4 linked regions of the Homo sapiens genome follow. The protein of the gene in region 1 interacts with the protein of each later gene in a pairwise test. Each region holds a gene or a part of one and is shown in the gene's direction. Other genes may lie near its edges.

What was found.
Region 2: the proteins of MTUS2 (region 1) and ZNF230 interact in binary tests that used the Homo sapiens proteins (3 or more experiments, as listed by UniProt).
Region 3: the proteins of MTUS2 (region 1) and SHFL interact in binary tests that used the Homo sapiens proteins (3 or more experiments, as listed by UniProt).
Region 4: the proteins of MTUS2 (region 1) and NELFE interact in binary tests that used the Homo sapiens proteins (3 or more experiments, as listed by UniProt).

Annotation. Positions count from the first base shown.
Region 1 is NC_000013.11:29,019,331-29,026,371, forward strand, and holds part of MTUS2 (microtubule-associated tumor suppressor candidate 2), read left to right. Parts: intron 1-5,126; 5' UTR 5,127-5,338; coding exon of another isoform or gene 5,339-5,368; coding exon 5,369-7,041. UniProt on the Homo sapiens protein: Binds microtubules. Together with MAPRE1 may target the microtubule depolymerase KIF2C to the plus-end of microtubules. May regulate the dynamics of microtubules at their growing distal tip.
Region 2 is NC_000019.10:43,998,852-44,005,975, forward strand, and holds the start of ZNF230 (zinc finger protein 230), read left to right. Parts: upstream 1-4,105; 5' UTR 4,106-4,256; intron 4,257-7,124. UniProt on the Homo sapiens protein: May be involved in transcriptional regulation.
Region 3 is NC_000019.10:10,089,286-10,093,753, forward strand, and holds the end of SHFL (shiftless antiviral inhibitor of ribosomal frameshifting protein), read left to right. Parts: coding exon of another isoform or gene 1-93; intron 94-193; coding exon of another isoform or gene 194-204; exon of another isoform or gene 205-365; intron 366-371; coding exon 372-410; intron 411-612; coding exon 613-762; intron 763-1,964; coding exon 1,965-2,068; exon of another isoform or gene 2,069-2,190; coding exon 2,191-2,345; intron 2,346-2,784; coding exon 2,785-3,017; 3' UTR 3,018-3,303; coding exon of another isoform or gene 3,304-3,494; 3' UTR 3,495-3,958; downstream 3,959-4,468. Other genes in the region: ANGPTL6 (angiopoietin-related protein 6), read right to left, coding at 3,304-3,494, 4,064-4,334, 4,408-4,468.
Region 4 is NC_000006.12:31,951,562-31,955,987, reverse strand, and holds the end of NELFE (negative elongation factor E), read left to right. Parts: intron 1-694; coding exon 695-769; intron 770-891; coding exon 892-929; intron 930-1,095; coding exon 1,096-1,433; intron 1,434-1,545; coding exon 1,546-1,690; intron 1,691-1,853; coding exon 1,854-1,908; intron 1,909-2,156; coding exon 2,157-2,259; intron 2,260-3,589; coding exon 3,590-3,687; 3' UTR 3,688-3,901; downstream 3,902-4,426. Other genes in the region: CFB (complement factor B preproprotein), read right to left, coding at 3,958-4,113, 4,384-4,426. UniProt on the Homo sapiens protein: Essential component of the NELF complex, a complex that negatively regulates the elongation of transcription by RNA polymerase II.

The DNA of each region.
Region 1 (7,041 bases):
TGTTCTGCTAACATTGGTGTCGATGAATGACACCAGTGAGTGATTTATCAGTGGATTATCAATGAATGATAATGTAGAAGGAACTCTTAGCTTTTCCACGATAGTATGGGAACAAGAATGGATTGCAGATATTTTCGATGAAAAATTAAGGATGGGCTCCACAAGTTTTAAAAGGATAGAACGATGCATTGAGACCAGCAAGGTGATGTTTGAGAAGTATATTTTTATGATCCCACCCATGGGTGCTAAAACCAGTTACAAATGTCTCGGATTGGGTCAGTGGAGTTTAGGACAACTTATATGGTACTTTGGTGTTTTAATTAATGATGTGGAACTAGAGGGTGATTTATATGTCCATGAGGAGGTCATTCTTAGAATGCGTGGTTAGAAGTAGAAGAGAATGGAAGGCTTGCTTTCTTATGACTCTAGATGGTGCAGTTAGAATTGAAGTATTGTGCATAGCTCTGGTCACCTTGTTTAGGAGGGACTTCAGGTTCCCTGGTGCTACACGGTGTACTTAGAGGAAAGCTGTTTGGATGGTGGGAGTTTTCAAAAGCTAATCCCACAGTTGGGAGAATCTGAGTTCTTTGACAAGGAGTAGAATAGGTTTTGGGAGGAAGGGAGCATATAGCTCTTTGTAAATACCTGAAAGGTCATCTGGTGGAAGAATTGCATCATTCTGCTGTAGAGAGGCAGAGCTTGCCAACAGAGACCCTGCCCAGATGTGTGGTGAGTTTTCTGGCCCTAGAACCAGGGGAAGCCACTTAGAAGACTCTTAAGCATCAGGTAGGTTATAAGCCTAGATCTTTACATTCCTTTCAAACTAGTACTGAACTAATTGATTTTTTTCAAGATAAAATATCAATTACTTCTAAGGCCATTATTGTTAACTTTTTGTAATAATAGATCTGAGGCATATGAAAGTTACATGTCTCACTCTGGGAAAATGCACCTCAACTAGGGGTTTGTACCATTGGTTGACCTATTTGCATATTTTATTTAATCACACACAGTCTTGTATTATGTACAAGTTTGAACTTCTGTGATCATGTTATATATTCTGTGAAAACGTTTATCTTAGTAGAAGGCCTTGGATTGAAATTTAGATCCGGACAGAAATTCGTGTTTGTGTTTACTTTGCCGCTGTCTTATGGCAGGATGAGGGAGCTGGAGTGAGGGAGACGCGTGAGGCCACATAAGGAGGAGGGAAGCTGACAGGAAACATGACTTCCTGTATATAATTTTGCCTGATAAAATTGAAGAAAGTTTTTAAATTTGCTTTTCCTGTCTTATGTGAACTTCCACGTGTTGGTTTCTGGTTTTGTTTTTCTATTCTTGTTCTTACAATAGTTTGTTTTCCTTTTGTTCTTCCTGTGTGGTGTATGATTCCATTCATGGGCAGCTTTTCTTCTTTACAGCTTCTGCTTTCTAAATGTGTCCCAGCTCTGCCACTCATGAGCTGTGTGACCTTGGGAATGTTACCTTCTCTGTGCTTTCATTTCCTTACCAGGACGTGGGAAAAAAAAAAAAGCAAGGGGATGTGAAGACCTGTCTCTGGAGGCCTGCTATAAATATTATTAAGTGTCCTAACTTAAATTAAAATTGAATATTAAAGACTTGTAATTGTGTAATTTTAATTTAAAATTAAATTTTAGGCCAGGTGCTGTGACTCATGCCTGTAATACTGGCACTTTGGGAGGCCAAGATAGGAGGATCACTTGAGGCCAGGAGTTTGAGACTAGTCTGGTCAATGTATCGAGACCCTATCTCTACAAAAAATTAAAAAATTAGCCAGATGTGGTGGTGTGCACCTGGAGTGCCAGCTGCTTGGGAGGCTGACCCAGGAGGATCTCTTGAGCCCAGGAGCTCATGGTTGTGGTGAGCTATGAACGTGCTACTGCACTCCAGCCTCGGCAACAGAATGAGATACTGTCTCAATTTTTTAAACAAATTTGTATAATGGCTGAGAAAATACTGGGCCCCTAGGAGGTTCCACCTTTCTTTCTGTCCCCTTACCAGTGAGTACCAGTTGTTTACTGACAAAGATAAAGAACATTTATGATGTAGTTCCTTAAAAATTAAAATACAACTCTTTCTAGCATGACATTGGTTTTATATTTCTTTGTCACTTTCTTGCAATCATGTTACATGTTGTGGACTTTGGTACTTTGTTTTTGTTTGTCTCTGCTGAGCAAAGTTTCTTTCTTTCTCCCAGCTTCAACAATTCAAACCGAAGAGGGCTCTTGGCTGCATATTTATACTTCTGCCCACAGAAAATTAGAGGCAGTTCCCTTCTGTGGATGGCCTATATTTATGAACTTTCTTGCCCTTCTTGACTTTGCAAGATACCCGTTTCTCATCCCAGAGAGCACAGCATTCTTTTAAACTGTGATCTTATTGATTTGCCTACATGCTTTTTGTATTTGTGCTTAGAGAACATGTGTATCTTCAAGGGAAACGCTTTTAAAATTGAATAAACAAAGACACAAGGGTTTGTTGAGAATCCCCTCTGTGTCAGGAAATGAAGACTGTGATCAGGGTATGAGCAACTTGGTTGAGGGCTATATTGGGGTCAGGCTGCACCAGGGGGTGCTACTGGCTTAGTGGAGATAAGGCTGGTAGAAGATGGAGAAGGAGAAAAAGCATGAGAGCGGGGAGGATGAGGACAGTGAGGGAGTCGTGGAAAGAACAGAAGAGCAGTGTGGTACGGAAATGCAAGCGCACATGCACATGTATGACTCTGTATTTTCCCATGATCATGCAAACATGGGGAAAGAAATGGAAAGATCTAGATGTTAATGTGTCTTGGGGTATGGGCTAGAAGAGGCAAATTTTAAAAAATGGAACAAAAACCAGCTTATAGGAAATGATCTTATGTATGTAAAAAAGTTTACATGCTTATGTATAGACGCAAAAGAAAAGAGATCTCTAAGTTGGAAACACAGAGGGCTTCAGTGAGGAGGAGCATGAGGATGGCTGCAAGGTGTCCTTGGGTTGGGTGATGGGCTGTCACGTGTTATATTATTTTGCTTTGTAACATATACATTTTATTAAATAGAGATAGGGTTTTGCTGTGTTGCCAAGGCTGACCTCAAGTGATCCTCCCACCTCAGGCTCCCAAAGCGTTGGGATTACAGGTGTGAGCTACTGTGTCCAGCCCTCATATTCTTTTTAATATATGAAACAACATATTAACAGGGATAAAGGGAAAACAAGTGGGTGGCCACGTTGCCATGTAACCTGTTTCAGGAGAAACATAACAGTAGCCTCACATGTGGTGTGCACGTGTGCTTGCACATTCTTGATGAATGAGGAGGAAAGTGTGGAAGGCTTCAAGTCTCCATTGGGGGAATTGGTGACGGGGCAGAACCTTGTTGCTGTTAAAATCCCCTATCCCCAGTGCCTAATAAAATGCACTCATAATAGTGGATGAAACAATGTCAACCTTGAATAGAATGGTTTAGTGGTGATCTGTGAGTCTACTTTAACAGAAAAGCATATCCTGTGTAGATTTTAAACTCTTTGGGGGCAGAAATAACGCTGATCTTCCTCATCATTCATTTGGACATTTATTCATTCATTTGTGCTGCAAATACATAATACGTGCCTAATATGTATGCCAGGTATTAGACAATATTTATTTTCAGTGTCTAGCAAATCTGAAAGTCTTTTTTTAATTCTTCAAAGTGAAAATACAGGATACTACAAATCCATCATTATAGGATGACCTAGTGAGGAACGCTTCCTGGAGGAAGTGGTAGTTATGTTGCATATTGAAGGATGCAAAGGACTTGTAAGATGAGGTTGGGGGAGGATTCCACATTCCATGCAGATGGAAGAGTATGCGCAAAGGCCCTGAGGCAGAGAGTAATGAACATGGTACTGTGAGGAATGAGGCCAATGTGGCTGCAGCCTGCAGAGCAGAGGGTGAGGTGGGGTTGAGGCCAGAAAGGTGTTCAGGGCCTGATCATGCAGGCCTCGAAGGCCAGAGTAAAGCATTTCCCCCAAGTTTTTATTTTGGAAAATTTCAAACCTATAGAAAAGTTGCAGATGTAATAGAATTATTACCTAGATTTTCAAATGGTTGACTTTTGCCAGTTTCTCTCTTTTACTCTTTCTCCTTCTCATATGCACACACACATACATACACGTTTTTCTTGGTCGAATCATTTGAGAATAAGTTAGAAAAATCATGACATACTACCTCTGAATTCTAAAGCATGTATATTTCAAGAACCAAATTAATCTCTGGCATAATTATAGCACGATTACACACCCAAGAAAATTAATTATAAAATACCTGTACCTTATATACAGTCCATATTTAAATCTCTAATTGTCCTAATAATATCCTTTGCTAACATGTTTTGAAAATCCAGGCTCCGCTGACATTTTTTGGGACCAGTTAGGCCAGTTATTTTGCAATACATACCTCAATTTAAATTTGCCAGATTATTGTCTCATGGTTAAATTCTGGTTGAACATTAACTACTGCATAGGTGATGTGTGGCCCTGAGAACTAACTAATATCAGGAGTCCGTAATGTCAGTTTCATTACTAGTGATGTTAAATTTGATCACGTGGTTAATGTGGTGTCTACCAGATCTCTCCATTGTAAAGATAAAATTTTCGTTTTGTAAGAAATGAAGTAGCCTGGGGGAAGATACTTTAAGCATCTATGAATATCTTGTTCCCCAACAATCTTTTACCCAATGTTTGTACCTTTGGCATCCCTTGTGTAAGATAATTATGAATGTAGCGATTGCAAAATAGTGATTTTTCAAATTCTATAATTTTTTTCTACATTCGTTGATATTCTTCTGTAAAGAAGAGCCCTTACTTCTCCTCCATCCTTTTAAATCAGTATCAGTATAGACTTGTGGATGTTTAAAATTTAGATTTAAGATCTCACATGCATTTATAATCCATTTCTAACATTAAACATTTTGATGTTTAATTTTTGTATTTGGCCAGGAGGAGCCCTGATCAGAAAGGTTTTTTGAGAAAACTATTGATTGAATGAAATAATAATATAGAAATGACAAATAAATCTGTGTTTACCACTTTTTTCTCCTGAGAAGTTCTATTTGTCAATCTAATGTGAATATATTTTTATTTCTCTCTAGGTCTCATGGACTGATTGGCTCTCATTCAGCAGGAACCTAACAGATAAGTCTTCCTGCTGTATATCAAGACAATGCTTGGTTTTCAAGCTGTTCTGAGAATGATTAAAGCAGTGTCGCAAGGTGACATTGTCAGGGGAGAACAAGCAGCTTGAGAATTTCCTCTTAATCTGATTGCAGCTTGAAGGCAGCCCATTTCCATTAAGTAGGACTGCATGGCAAGCAGCCCCACCAAAGGGTTGACAATGAGCGTCCCAGTGGCTCCTAAGAAATCATGTTACACTCAGTTGCGGGACAACAGAAATGCAGCAAGAAATAATAATGAAAGCATCTTAAGTCTGGGAGATACGAATGCCAATCAAATCATGTTGGAGGTCAGCTCCTCTCATGACGAGTCCAAGACATGTGACCTGGGAGATGAAATTGGAAATACAAATTCAAGTGAGCCAGAAAACCGTACCCATTTCCATAAGGAATTTCACCAACTTCAGGGCTTTGGGAAAGGCTCTCAGGCTGGCTCTGCCAGCCTGAAAGATTTTAGACTTTCTTCAACCATTCAGAGGGAACTCAATGAAGAGCACACAGTGGAGAGAGGCACAGATAGCCTGCAGACCACGCGGAGTATTCAGGGACCAAGTCTGTCGAGTTGGAGGAATGTGATGAGTGAGGCCAGTCTAGACGTTTTGGCTAAAAGGGATGCTGAAATTCCCCGGCATGTTCCCAAGGATAAACTGGCAAAGACCCTTGACAATGAGGAACTGAGGAGGCATTCTTTGGAAAGAGCAAGCAGCTCTGTAGCTGCAGTCGGGAGCCTGACTCCGCAGCATCCACAGCCTCTATCCCTCGACTCCCGGGAAGCACGGGGTCAGATACCTGGGGGTGGGGAGGGGCCACAGAAGACATTGCCAGACCACGCTGTCCCGGCAGCTTTCCCTGCAACTGACAGTACCTCAGAGGGAAAGAGTGTGCGTCATCCTAAACCATCTACCTCAGAAAGCAAGCAGAGCACTCCCTCAGAGACCCAAACAGTGGGGGCACATGTACTGCAGGTGTGCAGTGAGCACACATCACATTCCGCCCATCCAGAGCCTGCTCTGAATTTGACTTTGGCATCGAAGGAAATCCCAAGTAAACTGGAAGCACAATTAGGTCAGGGAAAGGGAGAGGCCAAGCTGGATCTGAAATATGTTCCTCCCAGGAGAGTTGAACAGGAGGGAAAGGCAGCCCAGGAAGGGTATCTGGGATGCCACAAGGAAGAGAATCTGTCAGCCTTGGAGGGAAGGGATCCATGTGGGGAAGCACACCCGGAAGCCACCGATGCACTTGGCCATCTGCTGAACAGTGACCTCCACCACCTTGGGGTGGGAAGAGGCAACTGTGAAGAGAAGAGAGGAGTCAACCCAGGGGAGCAGGATTCTCTCCACACCACCCCCAAACAGGGCTCTGCTTCCTTAGGAGGGGCTGATAATCAGCCCACTGGCAAAATTTCACCATGTGCAGGTGAGAAGTTGGGTGAAAGGACATCCAGCAGCTTTTCACCAGGTGACAGTCATGTGGCTTTTATTCCTAATAATCTGACTGACAGCAAGCCCTTGGATGTCATTGAGGAGGAAAGGCGGTTGGGCAGTGGGAATAAGGACAGTGTTATGGTTTTGGTGTTCAATCCTTCTGTTGGAGAGAACAAGACGGAGGTGCCTGAGCCCCTGGACCCTCAAAGTGGCCGCTCAGAAGCACGGGAAAGCAAAGAGGTCACCACATCTGTTGCTGAAAACAGGAACCTTCTAGAGAATGCAGATAAGATTGAAAGCACCTCAGCAAGAGCAGATTCAGTTCTCAATATTCCAGCACCCCTCCACCCAGAGACAACTGTGAACATGACCTACCAGCCTACAACACCCAGTAGCAGTTTTCAGGATGT
Region 2 (7,124 bases), on another chromosome or scaffold:
AATGAACCTGGGAGTGCAGATATCTCCGTGACATACTAATTTCCTTTCCTTTGGATATACCCAGTAATAGAATTGCTGGATCACTTGAATTTTATTATGCTTCAGAAGCTCCACACGGGAGAGAAACTACGGAAGTATGAGGAGGGTGGTATGTGCTTCATTCAGGCCTCAAGTCTTCAACTTCAGAATGTCCACATTGGAGAGAAGCCTCAGTAATGTGTGTAATAAAGTCTTTACTCAGTTTTCATGACTACAGTCTCACCTAAGCATTCACAAAGGGGAGAAACATTAAAATATGAGGCACATAGAAAGCAGTTCCTTTTGAGTTTGTATCTTGTAATTTATCACAGAATCCATGCTGATGATACATTTCATCCAGTCCTGTAGGAGAAAAAACATTTAAGTTAAAGCCTGTTTCAGCCATAGCTCAGCATACCCCAGTGGTCCTGGGACTGTCACAGTGGAGAACCCTTGTAAGTTGTGCAGTAGGGCTTCAAACAAAAGTTTGACAGTTACAGTTATTCAGGAGACAGACCTTAAGAGTTCATTCATGCATTTACAAAACGAATCATGAACATATCAAAGTTGATTACCACTAGAATGTCAGTGACATGTGTTTTCTGCTGCATCTTCACAACTTTAACACTGATTATCACTTTGTGTTCACTATGTGTTAAATGAATTAAAAGGAGCAAACGCGATGTTTTTAAATTGTATCTAAGAGAGGAAATCTACAAATAATTCAGGGACACCTGAGTTGAAATGCAGAGTACACTAAATACTGCAGTTCACAGCATTATTTTGATAATATCTGTTCACACTTGGTTCCTGTCTTCCCCTCCTCCTCTATTCCGAAGTTGCATTCTTAGTATTTGTGGCTTTGTGTAGTGTTCCATTGGTTGAATACAATATAAATTCAACAATAATTTGTAATTTTTCTCACACTACAGGCTGAAAACGTTGTAATAAATTCAATAAAACATCTTAATAAATTCAAAAGTTTAATACCATAAAAGTCTTTTCCAATTATAATCTAGATCACAAAAGCTGAAATTCAATCACATCATGAAAAGTGGAAAATTCACAAGTATGTGGAAACTAAACACACTCTTTATATATATATGTGTATATATATGTATGTATATATATGTATATGTATGTGTATATATATGTATGTATATATATGTATATATGTATGTGTGTGTGTATATATATATATATATATATATATATATATATATATATATACCCACCCTGTGTCCAAGTGTTCTCATTGTTCAATTCCCACCTATGAGTGAGAACATGCGGTGTTTGGTTTTCTGTCCTTGTGATAGTTTGCTCAGAATGATGGTTTCCAGCTTCATCCATGTCCATACAAAGGACATGAACCCATCTTTTTTAATGGCTGCATAGTATTCCATGGTGTATATGTGCCACATTTTCTTAATCCAGTCTATCATTGGTGGACATTTGGGTTGGTTCCAAGTCTTTGCTATTGTGAATAGTGCCACAATAAACATACGTGTGCATGCAGCACACTCTTAAATAATATGTCAGAGTACATCAGGAGTGAAATTAGGAAATACCTTAGACAACTGAAAATGAAAACAATGGCCAAAACTTTTGGAATGAGGCAAAAGCAGTAGGAGGAGGGAAATTTATATCTGTAAATGCTTATATTAAAGAAGAAAGATCTGACATCCACAGCCTAATTTTATTTTCATGAACTAGAAAAGGAGAATCTTACAGAAAGTGATTAGGAGGGAAATAATAAAGATTAAAGTATTAATAAATAAAATACAGAAGAAGAATACAAAGAAAATCAACCAAACCAAGAGTTGATTATTCTGAAAGACTAACAAAATTGTGAAAACTTTAGCAGGACTGACTAAAAAAGACTCAAGTAACTAAAAGTGGGGACATTATTACCCATTTTTACAGAGGTGAGCCACAGCGCCCAGCTTCATTTTTGTATAAGGTGTAAGGAAGGGGACCAGTTTCAATCTTCTGCATATGGCTAGCCAGTTATCCCAGCAGCACTTATTGAATAGGGAGTCCTTTCCCTGTTGTTTTTGTCAGTGTCATCAATGGCATGGTTTGGATGTGTCCCCACCCAAATCTCAGCTTGAATTGTATCTCCCAGAATTCCCACATGTGGGAGGGACACCACAGAAAGTCAGAATTATTAATTAAAAGGGAAACAGAACTAAGAATTTTAAAAATTCACAGCCTATCTACTTTGGAAAAAAAAATTAGAAAACCTGTTCTGGATAAAACAACGGTAGAGATAAGCAACTGATTTAGGAGATTAGTTTGGATTGGTCATGTCAACAGAAGCCAGGACCTGCTGTCCATTAACACTGGAAGAATGACCCCAAAGGCATCTAGGAGATCATAGAGGCTGCTCCTCCCAACACAGACCCAGAGTGCACGGACCTGGGAAGCAGAAGGGACCTTTGATGCCAAGTGCCCCTAACCTTTTAGGCTCAGTTCCCTGCATGCTACGATTGAGTGTGTCAATACATCTTATCTTTCGGGAAGGCAGAGTAGATCAAGGATACAGCTATAACTGGCATATGAATAGTGATCACTCAATTTTCAGAGAGCGGATGTTTGGCATCAAAAGTTTGGCACAGTCACCTTATTTTTGTGTCTAAACAAAATTTTGAAAAGTTTTTAGTTTAGAAAAATAGGTAAACAGTAGACTCCATTTTTTTTAAAAAGAAGAATATTGGTTTATAGGCCAATGTATGTTTATAGGGAGAAAAAAAGTTACCTTCAAAAGAGCAGGTTTTTAGATGAATTGTTTCCTAATTTAGCTTTATACTGTTATTATTTTTTAACCAATGCCAGTTTTTAAATTGCTAACTATAATAAAGAAATTATGTTTCACCAAGAAATAAGAAGAAACTTAAAAAAAAAAATCTTTAATTATTGAGGTATCTGTTGCCTAGGCTGGAGGGCAGTGGTGGCATCATAGCTCACTGCAGCCTCAATCAAACTCCTGGGCTTCAGCAATCCTCCCACCTCAGCCTCCTGAGTACTTGGAACTTGTAGTCCCAAGATCAGGCCACCATGCCTGGCCAGTTAAAAAAAAATTTTTATAGAGACGAAGTCTCCCTGTATTTCCCTGTCTGGTCTCCAATTCCTGAGCTCAAGGGAACGTCCTGCCCTGGCCTCCCAAAGGGTTGGCATTACAGGTTTGAGCCACTGCGCTTGGCCAGGAAGAAAACTCTTTATAAGACATGCTCCTTCACCTATAGAATCCTCCCGTTTTACTGCATTTACAATCTCAATGTAAGATTGATACCAATGCCTAGCTCTTCATCAGTCATTATTGCTCTGAGGTACTGAGCAATTCACTACATTCGCTGAAATTTGATGTTTCTACATCTAAGGAGAAATATGAATACCATGAAAAGTTTATGGGAAGATAGCTATTCCATGACGACACCGCTTCTCCACTAGTAGCTGTGATCTTAAATGGGGGTGGCTTTTCCTGCCAAACCAGTGGTCCCACAGCTTCTGGAGTAGGGGCTGGTGTCTTCCTGCTCCTCATTGCCCCTGCCAAACCATTCCACCTGGCTCATCCTTTAAACCGTTAGTTTTAACCTCCCATCGTCAGATTATCCTAATCCTTGAAGATTTTATCTCCTCGTTTGTTCTCTTCCCAATAACACTCCTGTCATCGTGGGAGGCGTTTAGACTTCAGGAATTCCTGTCTATACACTATTTTCGCTCAAAGACTCAGGAAGAGAGACGGACGACTCACAGGGTCACAGTCCACATTCCCCACCAGGCGCTCAGAGATATGGAATACGTTCCCGGTGGGCACTGCGGTGTGTGTAGTCAAGGACCACCGCGGAGTCCAACGCTTCCCGCTGAAGAGTGAGATTATAGACATTTTCCTTTGGCATTGGAGGAAGCGGAGTCCAGACACACTCTGAGTCGCGGGCAAGTTGGCTCAGGCGGGTGGACGAGTGAATTCTGGGAACTGTAGTCCATCAACTTCATGGAATGGCGGACCCTTTGGCTCAAGCAGTTGAACCGGGGAATTCTGGGAAGTGGAGTCCAGACGCTCTGTGGAGACGCGAGCACTTCCGGTGTGTGAGCCTGCGGTTGCTACATAACCGCGTAGTTTGAGCCATTTCTGCGTCTGGCGGGTCCTTCTGAACTTGTCACCTTCGCTTGGGGTCGCAACGACCCGATGATCGATGATCCAAGCAAGGGAAAAGAAGCCTTGGCGGAGAGCGGAGGTTTGGTGGGGGCGGGGAATGGGGTTTTTTTCCCGTCCACGGAAGCTTTCTGGGATGGGGGTGCTGTGCTCGCATCCCGGGGGTTGGAATTGGCGGGGTCCTCTGTGCCCTGCTGTGAGCGTTTCCAGGACTTTGACCTCGCTCAGCCTGCCTCTCTCCACCCTACCTGTGCGACCGCTTTCTCGCAGTGTGACGTGGAGTGTTACTCAATGTCCTTATACTTTCCATTGCTGTTTTTGGTAATGGGGACATTAGAACCATCCTAGTAGAATCGTTTTTGGGAACTGAAAGAGATAACGCAAATGAGAACCTTAAAGCAGTCCCTGTCACTTGGTGACTGGTGGTCTCTTGTTAACTTCCCGAAGAGGTCAGGTCCCCGGGTGGAGTCATAGCTTCAGCTGCAGGGGCCCTGGTCCTTCTCCCTAATCCCTGCAGGACGCTGGATGATCCCGGGAGGCCTTCTGACCTCTTTTTAGGAAAGCGAGTTGCGTCCGCTTCCACGAAGGGCGGGGAGCATTTAACTTTTATGGGGGACCGCGATGCAGTCAGGGTATTTCACAACTTTCGCCTTCCCCAGCCTGACCTTTCTAAAAGAGCTGCAGGGAGGGGACTTCTTGGCTACTGAGGGCAAATCTCTATGTGATTGGTCCTTGGCTTTTTTCCTTTATAGAGATGTTCACCCAACCGAGAGTGTGTCCTCGGGAATGGGTGTTGATAATCATTAAGCCGTAATTGGTAACTTCATTCTAAGTGCTTTATACAAATAAATTTAGGCCACACTGTGGCTCTGTGAAGTATTGCTTTTCTTTGTTTTAAAAATGAGAGTGAGACACAGGGTGCATAGCAGCCAACTAGTGAGAGGTAGAGCTGGGGTTGGCACCTAGGCAGTCCAGGTCAGAGCCTGAGTTGATCACCTCTTGGATACATTCTCATTGAGGCAGAGGAACTAGCTGGACTCGTAGGGAAAGCAAGTTAGGACCTGATTGAAAGGACGTTGAGAGCAAGGCTCGTGGGCTTGGACGTCTAGGAATTTTTAAAAATTTCTCAACTATTTTGTTTCATGTTTTCCAAGTATTTCGTACTGTTGTGGAACTGTATCATTGTGGAAAAGTCTGAAATAGGAGAAATGAGAGTAGAAAAAGTTTTTTAATTACCCATGTATCCAAGATGTAAAGGTAGTAACTGTTAAGCTTCTAATTGATTTCTTTTGTCTTTCTTTGTGTCTACTTCTATATTTGTTGATAAACATTTTTTTAAAAATTGTTATATTTTAATGTGTTTTCCCATATGTCTTTTAACTATAGAAAATTTTAAATATTGCTAATAGAGACTAAACTAGTGAGGCTGGTTGTGGTGGCTCATGCCTATAATCCCAGCACTTTGGGAGGCCAAGGCAGGTGGATCACTTGAGGTCAGTAGTTTGAGACCAGCCTGGCCAACATGGTGAAACCCCATCTCTACCAAAAATACAAATATTAGCCGGGCGTGATGGCACGTGCCTGTAGTCCCAGCTACTCTAGAGGCTGAGGCAGGAGAATTGCTTAAACCCGGGAGGTGGAGGTTGCAGTGAGCCAAGATCACGCCACTGCACTCCAGCCTGGGCAACAGAGTGAGACTCAAAAAAAAAAAAAAAAAAAAGAATAAACTAGTGAACTGCCATATTATATAATGCTCAATTTTATTATTCCCATTATCCTTATGACTATTTCCTGATATCTAAAATATTTTTGCTGGGCGCGGTGGCTCACGCCTGTAATCCCAGCACTTTGGGAGGCCGAGGCGGGTGGATCACGAGGTCAGGAGATCGAGACCATCCTGGCCAACATGGTGAAACCCCATCTCTACTAAAAAAAAAAATACAAAAAATTAGCTGGGCATGGTGGCAGGCAGTTGTGGTCCCAGCTACTCCAGAGGCTGAGGCAGGAGAAAGGCGTGAGCCCGGGAGGCGGAGCTTGCAGTGAGCGAGATCGCGCCACTGCACTCCAGCCTGGGCTAGGGAGCGAGACTCTGTCTCAAAAAAAAAAAAATTAAAAACTAAAAACAAAATAAAATATTTTCATCTTTATATCATTTAAAAGCTATAGAAAAGTTGCAAAAATAGTATAAGGAGTTCTCATACTCTATCCAAATTTGCCAATTGTTTACATTTTTCCTGGTTGCTTTGTTGATGACCATCAGCCAAATACCACCAGGAACATAACTAACCAGAGACAGCTGATTATGGCTTTCTGCAGCAAGGAAGCCCACATACCATGGTAAATGTGGGGTGTGTTGGTAAGAGGTATTTAAGAAGGGATGGTATAGGGTTTCACATAACATGCTAGATAATATTAGATATTAAATAATATTGTTATCTATTACATATCAGATCTGTTAAAAGACTACTAGTAGTTGTAGTGTTACTCATTAGATAGTGTTGAATAGCATATTACCTAACATCCTGTTATCTAATCTGTAGTTACATATTTAAATTTGTTCAGTTTTTCATTTAAAGTCCTATGCCAGGCACAGTGGCTCATGCCTGTAATCCCAGCATTTTGGGAGGCAACGGCGGGTGGATCTCCTGAGGTCAGGAGTTCGAGACCAGCCTGGCCAACATGGTGACACCTTGTCTCTACTAAAAATATTTTTAAAAGCCGGGTGTGGTGGCATGCTCCTGTAATCCCTGCTACTTGGGAGGCTAAGGCAAGAGAATCACCTGAACCCAGCAGGCGGAGGTTGCAGTGAGCTGAGATCGCGCCACTGCACTCCAGCATGGGTGACAGAGCGAGACTCTGTCTCAAAAAATAAAAAAATAAAGTCCTTATGACTGTGTCCCCTACCCCACCCTTCACCTGCAATGCCATTCAAAGTCCAGTTTATGCATTG
Region 3 (4,468 bases), on another chromosome or scaffold:
CCACATCTCTCTCCCACTTAGCCGAGCACAACGTGGCCTCAAAGGGGCGATATGTCACAACATCAACAAGCATGTGGCATTTGCAGGCAGGAAGTGAGTATGGGGGTCAGGCTAGCCTCACTCAGGCAAGCCCTCCCCTAAGCCTCAGTTTCCCCATCTGAGCAATAAGGTAACAGGTGTGCCCACCTCTCAGGGCTGCTATGAGGACAACTGAGGCCACACACCTGGCTCTCAATAAGTGAGTGGTGCTCTGTGAGCTTCTGGCGAGTTAGGGGCACCCTACTCATTGCGGCCGGGGGCCTCCCCCAGCAAACGGGTGGAAAGAGGCCTGAGCCCCATCCCCAGTTTCTGCCCCTGCTATCTCCACCCAGGATCCACCAGAAGATATGAAGCAGGACCGGGACATTCAGGTGAGTTGGTGGCTAGGGCTTGGGATGGGGGAGTTGGGAGGGGGACATCTGCAGGCACAGAAGGATGTCCATTAGGGCAGGAGGGGAGATATTCACTGGGGCAGGAAGAGGACTCGTCTGTAGGGAGAGGAGGGCTGATGCTTATGTTGGTGCAGAAGGGGTGACACCCCCCCACCTCATCCCCACCTGCCCCATTCCACAGGCAGTGGCGACCTCCCTCCTGCCACTGACAGAAGCCAACCTACGCATGTTTCAACGTGCCCAGGACGACCTTATCCCTGCTGTGGACCGGCAGTTTGCCTGCTCCTCCTGCGACCACGTCTGGTGGCGCCGCGTGCCCCAGCGGAAGGAGGTGATGACCTAAAACTTAACCTCGACTTTGACTGTCCCGAACTCCACTCCTGACTCCTATCCTCAGTGACTGTACCTCTGACCTAAGGATTTCAATCACTGAGAGTCCAATCCCTGACCTCCAAACTCAGAGCTCAGCCTTGATCTCTGATCCCAACCCCTGACCCAGGACTGGACTTCTGACCTTAAATGTGAGAAGCCCAATACCTCCTTACCCCAGAACCTGACCCTTGACCCACAATTGAACAGCTACTACAGAAATCAAACCTGGCCAGGCGCAGTGGCTCATGGCTGCAATCTCAGTGTTTTGGGAGGCTAAGTAGGGAGGATCGCTTGAATTTAGGAGTTTGAGACCAGCCTGGGTGACAGGGTGAGACCCTGTCTCCAAAAAAAAATGTGTTTTGAAGACAGGGGGTCTCGCCCTGTCACCCAGGCTGGAGTGCAGTGGCGGGATCATAGCTCACTGCAGCCTCCACCTCCTGGCCTCAGGTGATCCTCCCACCTCAACCTCCCAAGCAGCTGGGACTACAGGCCTGCGCCACCACACTTGGCTAATTTTTGTATTTTGTGTGTGTGTGTGGAGATGGGGTTTTGCCATGTTGCCCAAGCTGGTCTCAAACTCCTGGGCTCAAGCAATCTACCACCTCAGCCTCCCAAAGTGCTGGGATTACAGGCATGAGCCACTGTGCCTGGCAAAAAAAAATTTTTTTAATTAGCTGGGAGTGGTGGTGTGTGCCTGTGGTCCCAACTACTCAGGAGGCTGAGGTGGGAGGATCGTTTGAGCCTGGGAGGTCGAGGCTGCAGTAAGCCATGATCACAACACTGCATTCCAGCCTGGGTGACAGAGCAAGACTCTGTCTCTAAAAAAAAAAAGAAAGAAAGAAAAGAAACCAAATCTGACCTCAAAAACACAGCCCCAAATCTGGCTTCTGAACCTCCTGACTAGTAGTTCACTTCTGGTCAATGCTTAACTAGTTCTTGCAAAAGAGGCAGGAAGCCAAGATGTGTAGTGTTTGCCAATTTCTGTGGTGTAAATATTCCCACCATGGTCAATATCAGGCTACCCACGTGAAGTCACTGATTGAGTTGGGTTGCTCAAGCTGAGGCCAGCCGCTGCAGCACACTGCTAGCCCTGACCCCAACCTCAGACACCTCTGACAATCCTTGGTCCCCTCTCTGTACCTTCCTGCCCACCACCACCAGGTATCCCGGTGCCGGAAATGCCGGAAGCGCTACGAGCCAGTGCCAGCTGACAAGATGTGGGGCCTGGCTGAGTTCCACTGCCCGAAGTGTCGGCACAACTTCCGGTGAGGGCGCTGACCCCCAGCTCCCCCTCAGCCCTGCCCTACCCCAGCCCTGCCCCTCCCTGCCCTGGCCCCACCCTGGCCCAGCCTCGCCCTCGGACCCTCACAGCCCTGCCCGCCCCCAGGGGCTGGGCACAGATGGGGTCCCCGTCCCCCTGCTACGGGTGCGGCTTCCCCGTGTATCCAACACGGATCCTCCCCCCGCGCTGGGACCGGGACCCGGATCGCCGCAGCACCCACACTCACTCCTGCTCAGCTGCCGACTGCTACAACCGGCGAGGTGAGGCTCTTCTCCCCCAACAGCCTGGACAGTCTTTGTCCCCTTCTGTGCCTTTAAGTCCCCAAATCTCCACTCAGTCCACTTTGTCTCCCACAGCAGCAGCCACTGCTTCCACATGGCCTCCATGACCCCCCAGTCTCCGTGGTCTTGCCCAGGAGGCTCTGAGGTTTCACCCCAGTGGCCCGTGCCTGAGGGTCCCCATGGCCTCTGCCCCCATGGTCTCTGGGTTTGGGGCCCCTGTTTTGTCCCCTGTAATCTCAGGTGACCCCCATGTCCCCAGGTCTCCTGTATCTTCAACACCCCTGAATGTCCAGTTGTGCTGGTCCCCGTATCTGGTGGTCTCAGCTCCTCCCTAGAGCCCCGCGTGGCCTAAGTCCCCTCCTCCCCAGACTCTCATGGGACCTCCAGCCCCATGTCTGCAGCACCTCTCCCTCCCTAGAGCCCCACGTGCCTGGGACATCCTGTGCTCACCCCAAGAGCCGGAAGCAGAACCACCTGCCCAAAGTGCTCCACCCCAGCAACCCTCACATTAGCAGTGGCTCCACTGTGGCCACCTGCTTGAGCCAGGGTGGCCTCCTGGAAGACCTGGACAACCTCATCCTGGAGGACCTGAAGGAGGAGGAGGAGGAAGAGGAGGAGGTGGAGGACGAGGAGGGCGGGCCCAGGGAGTGACCCCTGCCAGGTGCAGATACAAACCAGACACGGTCTGTGGCTACTTTGTGTTATTATAAGATATGAGCTCAAACCGAGATATGAATGACCTTGGGGAGCCATCTGAGGCCAAGATATTGACGGGGGGGATTCCTGGGTCCCATTTTCAGCGCCCAGGGTCACAGATCCACAGTGGGAAGTTCTGTGGGACACATTGGCACTGAGCCACAAAGAAGGTGTGGCCAGAACAACTTGGGCTCCTGCTGACCAATGTCCTCTAGGGCCTAGGGGACAGAGGAACACAGAGTCACAGCTTCAGGGGCCGAATGAGCATGGCGGCCTTCCTGAGAGAATATGCCCCACCACGAAACTCAGCCCAGTAGACACCATCCTGGTAGCGGCTTCGGTAGTGGCCGCCGTGGTGCCACACACCGTTGAGGTTGGAGTGGGCACAGGCATGGTACCACCAGCCTCCCCGCTGGTACAGGGCACAGTTACCTGAGGGGAGAGAGAGAGTCCATGTCCTCTCACCAGAATAAAAGCCTCTACCTGCACCTCACAGTGCAAGGCTTTTGCCAGGCATCCCCTGGCCCCTCCCATTCTTATTGAATACAAGCCCTGATCTTCCATCTCCTCAGCAAAAAAATAGGAGCCCTGGCCCCCCAACTTTCTTCAGAGTAATAGCCTTAATTCCTTCCCTATCTCCTTACCAAAGTACAAGTCACATCTTTCCCACCTTTTCTGCAAACTAGGAGTCTACCGTTCATTCCTTTATCAAAGAAAAGTATCTACTTCCTTTCTAGAATAAGAGTACTAGCTCTCACCCTCTGCCCTTTACTTGAACAGGAGTCTTGATTCTTTTTTTGCCTCATCAGAGAAGGAATCTGGACTCCCCATCCCCCCACCAGGATAAAAGTCCTGACCTTTGTTCTCTTGACGGAATAAAAGCTTGCTTATCCTTATACTTACCAGAGGGGCGTCTTACCTACCCTACCTCCTTTCATTCCCTCACCAGAACAGGAGTCCCGCCTCCCCTATCCTCTCACCAGAATAGGAGTTCTCCTTACCAGAATAGGAGTCTCGGTCCCTATCCACGGTGCTGAAGGGCTTGTCATTGTGCCAGGAAAGAGAGTCTCCAGCATCACCATGGTACTGGCCAAGCCGCAGGCGGTAGTGGTCGCTCTCGGGTTCCAGGGAGAAGCCATCATAGTGGGCACGTGCTCCACGGCCCCCCCAGTCCTCCAGGAGAACCAGCAGCTCATGGTCCCCACGGCTGGTCAGCTGATACACGGGTTCAAGGCCCAGCCAGTATTCTCCGTCTGGCCGCCCAAAGCCCGCCTGGCAGGGCAGGAAAGTCAGGAAGCCAGAACAGGCTCCCTCCCCTTCCCTGCCTCTGCCCACCTGTGCCCACCTTATAGTGCTGCCAGGTAGTGAAGAAGTTGACTGAACCATCTTGCCTCCGCTGGATCACA
Region 4 (4,426 bases), on another chromosome or scaffold:
CTGCACTCCAGCCTGGGTGACAGCGAGACTCCGTCTCAAAAAAAAAAAAAATTAGCAGAATGTGGTGGTGCACACTTATAGTCCCAGTTACTGAGGAGGCTGAGGCCAGAGAATCACTTGAACCCAGGAGGCAGAGGTTGCAGTGAGTGGAGATCACACCACTGCACTCCAGCCTGGACGACAGAGCAAGATTCTGTCTCAAAAACAAAACAAAACAAGCCACAATGGCAGGTGCGGCAATGGCTCATTCCTGGTTAATTTCAGCACTTTAGGAGGCCGAGGTAGGAGGATTGCTTGAGCCCAGGAGTTTGAGACCAGCCCTGGCAACATAGTGAAACCCTATCTCTACAAAAAAAAAAAAAAATACAGAAATTAGCCAAGCATGGTAGAGCACATCTCTAGTCCCAGCTACTAGGGAGGCTGAGGTAGGAGGATTGCTTGAGCATGGGAGGTCAAGGCTGCAGCAAGCTACGATTGCTCTATTGCACTCCAGCCTGGACAACAGAGCAGGACCGTGTCTCAAAAAAAAAAAAAAAAAATAAGTAAAACCACGTCAAATAAGAAATGTATGTAGAATTAAAAGGGAAGAAAAGATCAGAGGAAACCTAGAAGAGGGTGAGGGAAGAGGAACACCTCTGGTCCATGGTTGGGCAACCTCCTGCTCCACACTGAGGTAGGTCTCTCACCACTCCAGGACCCCGAGAAGGGACCAGTCCCCACTTTCCAGCCGTTCCAGAGGAGCATATCTGCTGATGATGACCTGCAAGAGGTAAAGGCTCCTAATTTCTGTCCCTGAGGGGTTGGGGATGGAGGAATATGAGAGACAAATATATTTTGGACCACATGTCAGCAACTGGAAATCATCTTAACTGTTCTTGGTCTCTTTTACAGTCATCCAGACGTCCCCAGAGGAAATCTCTGTATGAGAGGTTAGAGAGTAGAGATAAGGCTGGGCCCATTTGGTGGAGTTGATTGCCTGAGTCCTTGGGAGGTTTGGGCTGTAGGAGCTGGGCTATAGAGGGAATATTGAGTCTCCACAGGGTCTGAGGGGAGAAGGTAAAACCCCCCTTTGATCTTCAGTCTGCATCTCCCCAGCTTTGTGTCTTCTAGTGATCGACTTCGAGAACTAGGACCAGATGGAGAAGAGGCAGAGGGCCCAGGGGCTGGTGATGGTCCCCCTCGAAGCTTTGACTGGGGCTATGAAGAACGCAGTGGTGCCCACTCCTCAGCCTCCCCTCCCCGAAGCCGCAGCCGGGACCGCAGCCATGAGAGGAACCGGGACAGAGACCGAGATCGGGAGCGGGATCGAGACCGGGATCGAGACAGAGACAGAGAGCGGGACAGGGATCGGGATCGGGATCGAGATCGAGACCGGGAACGGGACAGGGATCGGGAGCGGGATCGAGACCGAGACCGAGAGGGTCCTTTCCGCAGTGAGTGATTTTGGCTGGAGGTCAAGGTGACCTTAACTGAGGTTTATGTGGGTCCTACTAAGTGAAATGTGGCATGGTCTATGTCTTGTGACTATGATTTGTGCTCCCAAAGGGTCGGATTCATTCCCTGAACGGCGAGCCCCTAGGAAAGGGAATACTCTCTATGTATATGGAGAAGACATGACACCCACCCTTCTCCGTGGGGCCTTCTCTCCTTTTGGAAACATCATTGACCTCTCCATGGACCCACCCAGAAAGTAAGGATGACAACAGGGCATGATGAGAAGTCCTGGGAGAATCCTGGGGTGTGAGACCTGAGGGAAGAAGCTGCCCTCCCTGCAGCCGCCTATTATCACTGGGTTTGGTTGGGTCCAGAAGAGCCCCTTGGCTCTCCACTGACCGTGTTTTCTCTTATCCCAGCTGTGCCTTCGTCACCTATGAAAAGATGGAGTCAGCAGATCAGGCCGTTGCTGAGGTTGGAACTTCCCAAATCTGTTCTTCCCATCGCTTCTGCTGTTCTCATGTGTTCTCCTCAAAATACTAGATGCCAGGAAGAAGTTGGTTCCTCTTGATAAAGAAAGCCTCTCCCTATTCACACAGAAAAACTCACATTCTCAGATTCCTTATTCAGTCTCCTCCTAGGATAGCAACTCCTGGAATAACTTCTTTGGTTTATCTGTAATGTTTTCCTCCCCATCCTCTGCCTCCCCTCTTCTGCTTCAGCTCAACGGGACCCAGGTGGAGTCTGTACAGCTCAAAGTCAACATAGCCCGAAAACAGCCCATGCTGGATGCCGCTACTGGCAAGTCTGTCTGGGGCTCCCTCGGTAAGAATGGGATTCTTCCTTTCCCATCCTCTCCCCCACAGGCCATTCCTTTTGGTTCCCCCACACATCCTTGGGTTTCCTAGAGATGATCGAGGTCAGAGTGTGTGCGGAGGCTATGGGAATGGGAAGGAAAATTTCAGATCCTCTGTCAGTTAGAGGTAAAGAAAGGAGAGAAAAGGATTGAAAACAGCTTCCAAAGCAGTGACTGGAACAGGGAAGAAAGTGGGAGCTGGAGTGAGATTGGTGAGGAAGATGAGTGTCTCATGGGGCTTGTTCATTTTGAGATGGAGTAGAGTGAGTTTCATAAGTATTCGAAATCAGGGATCTGGAACTCAGGTGTGAGGTAAGGAAGGAAAACATAGATTAAGTCATCCACATCACAGGGTGGCTGCCAAACAATAGGATCATCAGGGAGACTCTGATTTCAGAGAAAAAAAAACGACCCAGGACTCAGTTTGAGGAGTACTCTGGGACTATGTTAGGAAACAGGACTGTTCACCTCACACCCCACATGTCCCCAGCTGTCCTGACATGTTAGGCTAACGTTGAGCCTAACGTTAGCAAAGGAGACAGGAGGAGGGGTCGGAGGGCTGGGAGCAGCACCGCAGGGGCCTGGGCCACTGAAGCAAAAGGACACACACTTTGAGAAAGAGGGAGTAGCCAGCAGTGTTGAGGCACAGAGATCACAGGATGGGAGTGGGTGAGAGAGATTCTCTGTAGCTCAAGGGTGGTGGGGATGGAACCATTGGATGGGGTGAAGAGAGTAACATGTCTGGTGGAGGGAGGAAAGAGGAAGGGGAAGAAACAGCTAGAGGCTTGAGAGAGAATGGTGAGGGCCAAAGCTACACCCTGAATGAGTTCTGGTGGAGCTAGTAGCATTTCTTAGTGTGAATAATCCATTTTCCCTGAAAGTAGATTTTCCTGGGAAAGGAGTGAGCAGAAAGAAGGGCTCAGCTACAGTGGCCCTTCAGGCAAAAGAAAGGAACTAGAATTGACCAGCATGTCAAAAAAGGGCTACAGAGGTTTTCTAGTTTTTAGCTTCTGACATACTGACTGTAAGTAGTGGGTTAATATCATTCACGTGTCTCAACAATGACATTTGGGATTTTTCTAAGAACAAAACATTCATCAAAATGTCCACTTATACTTTTCTTGGCCATGGGTTGGCACAAAGGAGCTAAGGAAGACAGGCCATCCTGGCCACCAGAGGGCAGCGTGGAAACTGGGCTTCCAGGGGCCAGTGGCCAGGAGTGAGGTGGTCAGGAGTCAGCCTCAGGGTCTGTTCTATGATCTCCTTTAGACCTTAACTGTTCCTCTCCTCCCTCCCTAGCTGTCCAGAACAGCCCTAAGGGTTGCCACCGGGACAAGAGGACCCAGATTGTCTACAGTGATGACGTCTACAAGGAAAACCTTGTGGATGGCTTCTAGGGAACAGAGCTGGATTCCTTGTGCCTCATATGCCCCAATGCTGGTCTCAGTAAAACACTGAGGTGGAAGCTTACACATCTCCCTCAGCCTCTGGTTTTTCAGCACTTGGGATTGGGGTTAAACCTTTAAAAACGGCTGTCAGGTTTGATCTCAGTGTAACAACATGGCCAGTGCCTGTTCCCCACTCCCTTGCCCCAAAAGGATCTGGAACACAGGTGTTGTCGCAGCTGTTTTAATTCAATCCCACGCCCCTGTCCAGCAGGAAACCCCTTATAGAAAACCCAAATCCTCATCTTGGAGTTTCTCCTTCAGCCAGGGCAGCACTTGAAAGAGGTTGATGTGAAAGTCTCGGGCGTGAGCAGGTACCTGCTTTTGCCGCTTCTGGTTTTTGCAGACATCCACTACTCCCCAGCTGATTACACCAACCTGCAGAGGCAGTGGGGTGCCATGGATCATTCAGTAGAATTCCTAATCCTGGAAGCATGGCTGTTCCTGCTTGTGTCTTAGCTGACCTAAAGGAATCAGACTAGGGACCCAGCTCAGCCTCGTTCTTGACACACGCAGGCAAGACATGCGGTCCTAAGGTGAGGCAGGCTCTGCCTACCTCGAATTACTAGCCACATGCATTGAGCTTTCCTGCTTTGGGGCCCATGCTGACCACTTGGCATCTCCCCAGATAGGAAAGGGAGGACTCACTTGAATGAAACGACTTCTCTTGTGAACTATCAAGGGGCCGCCA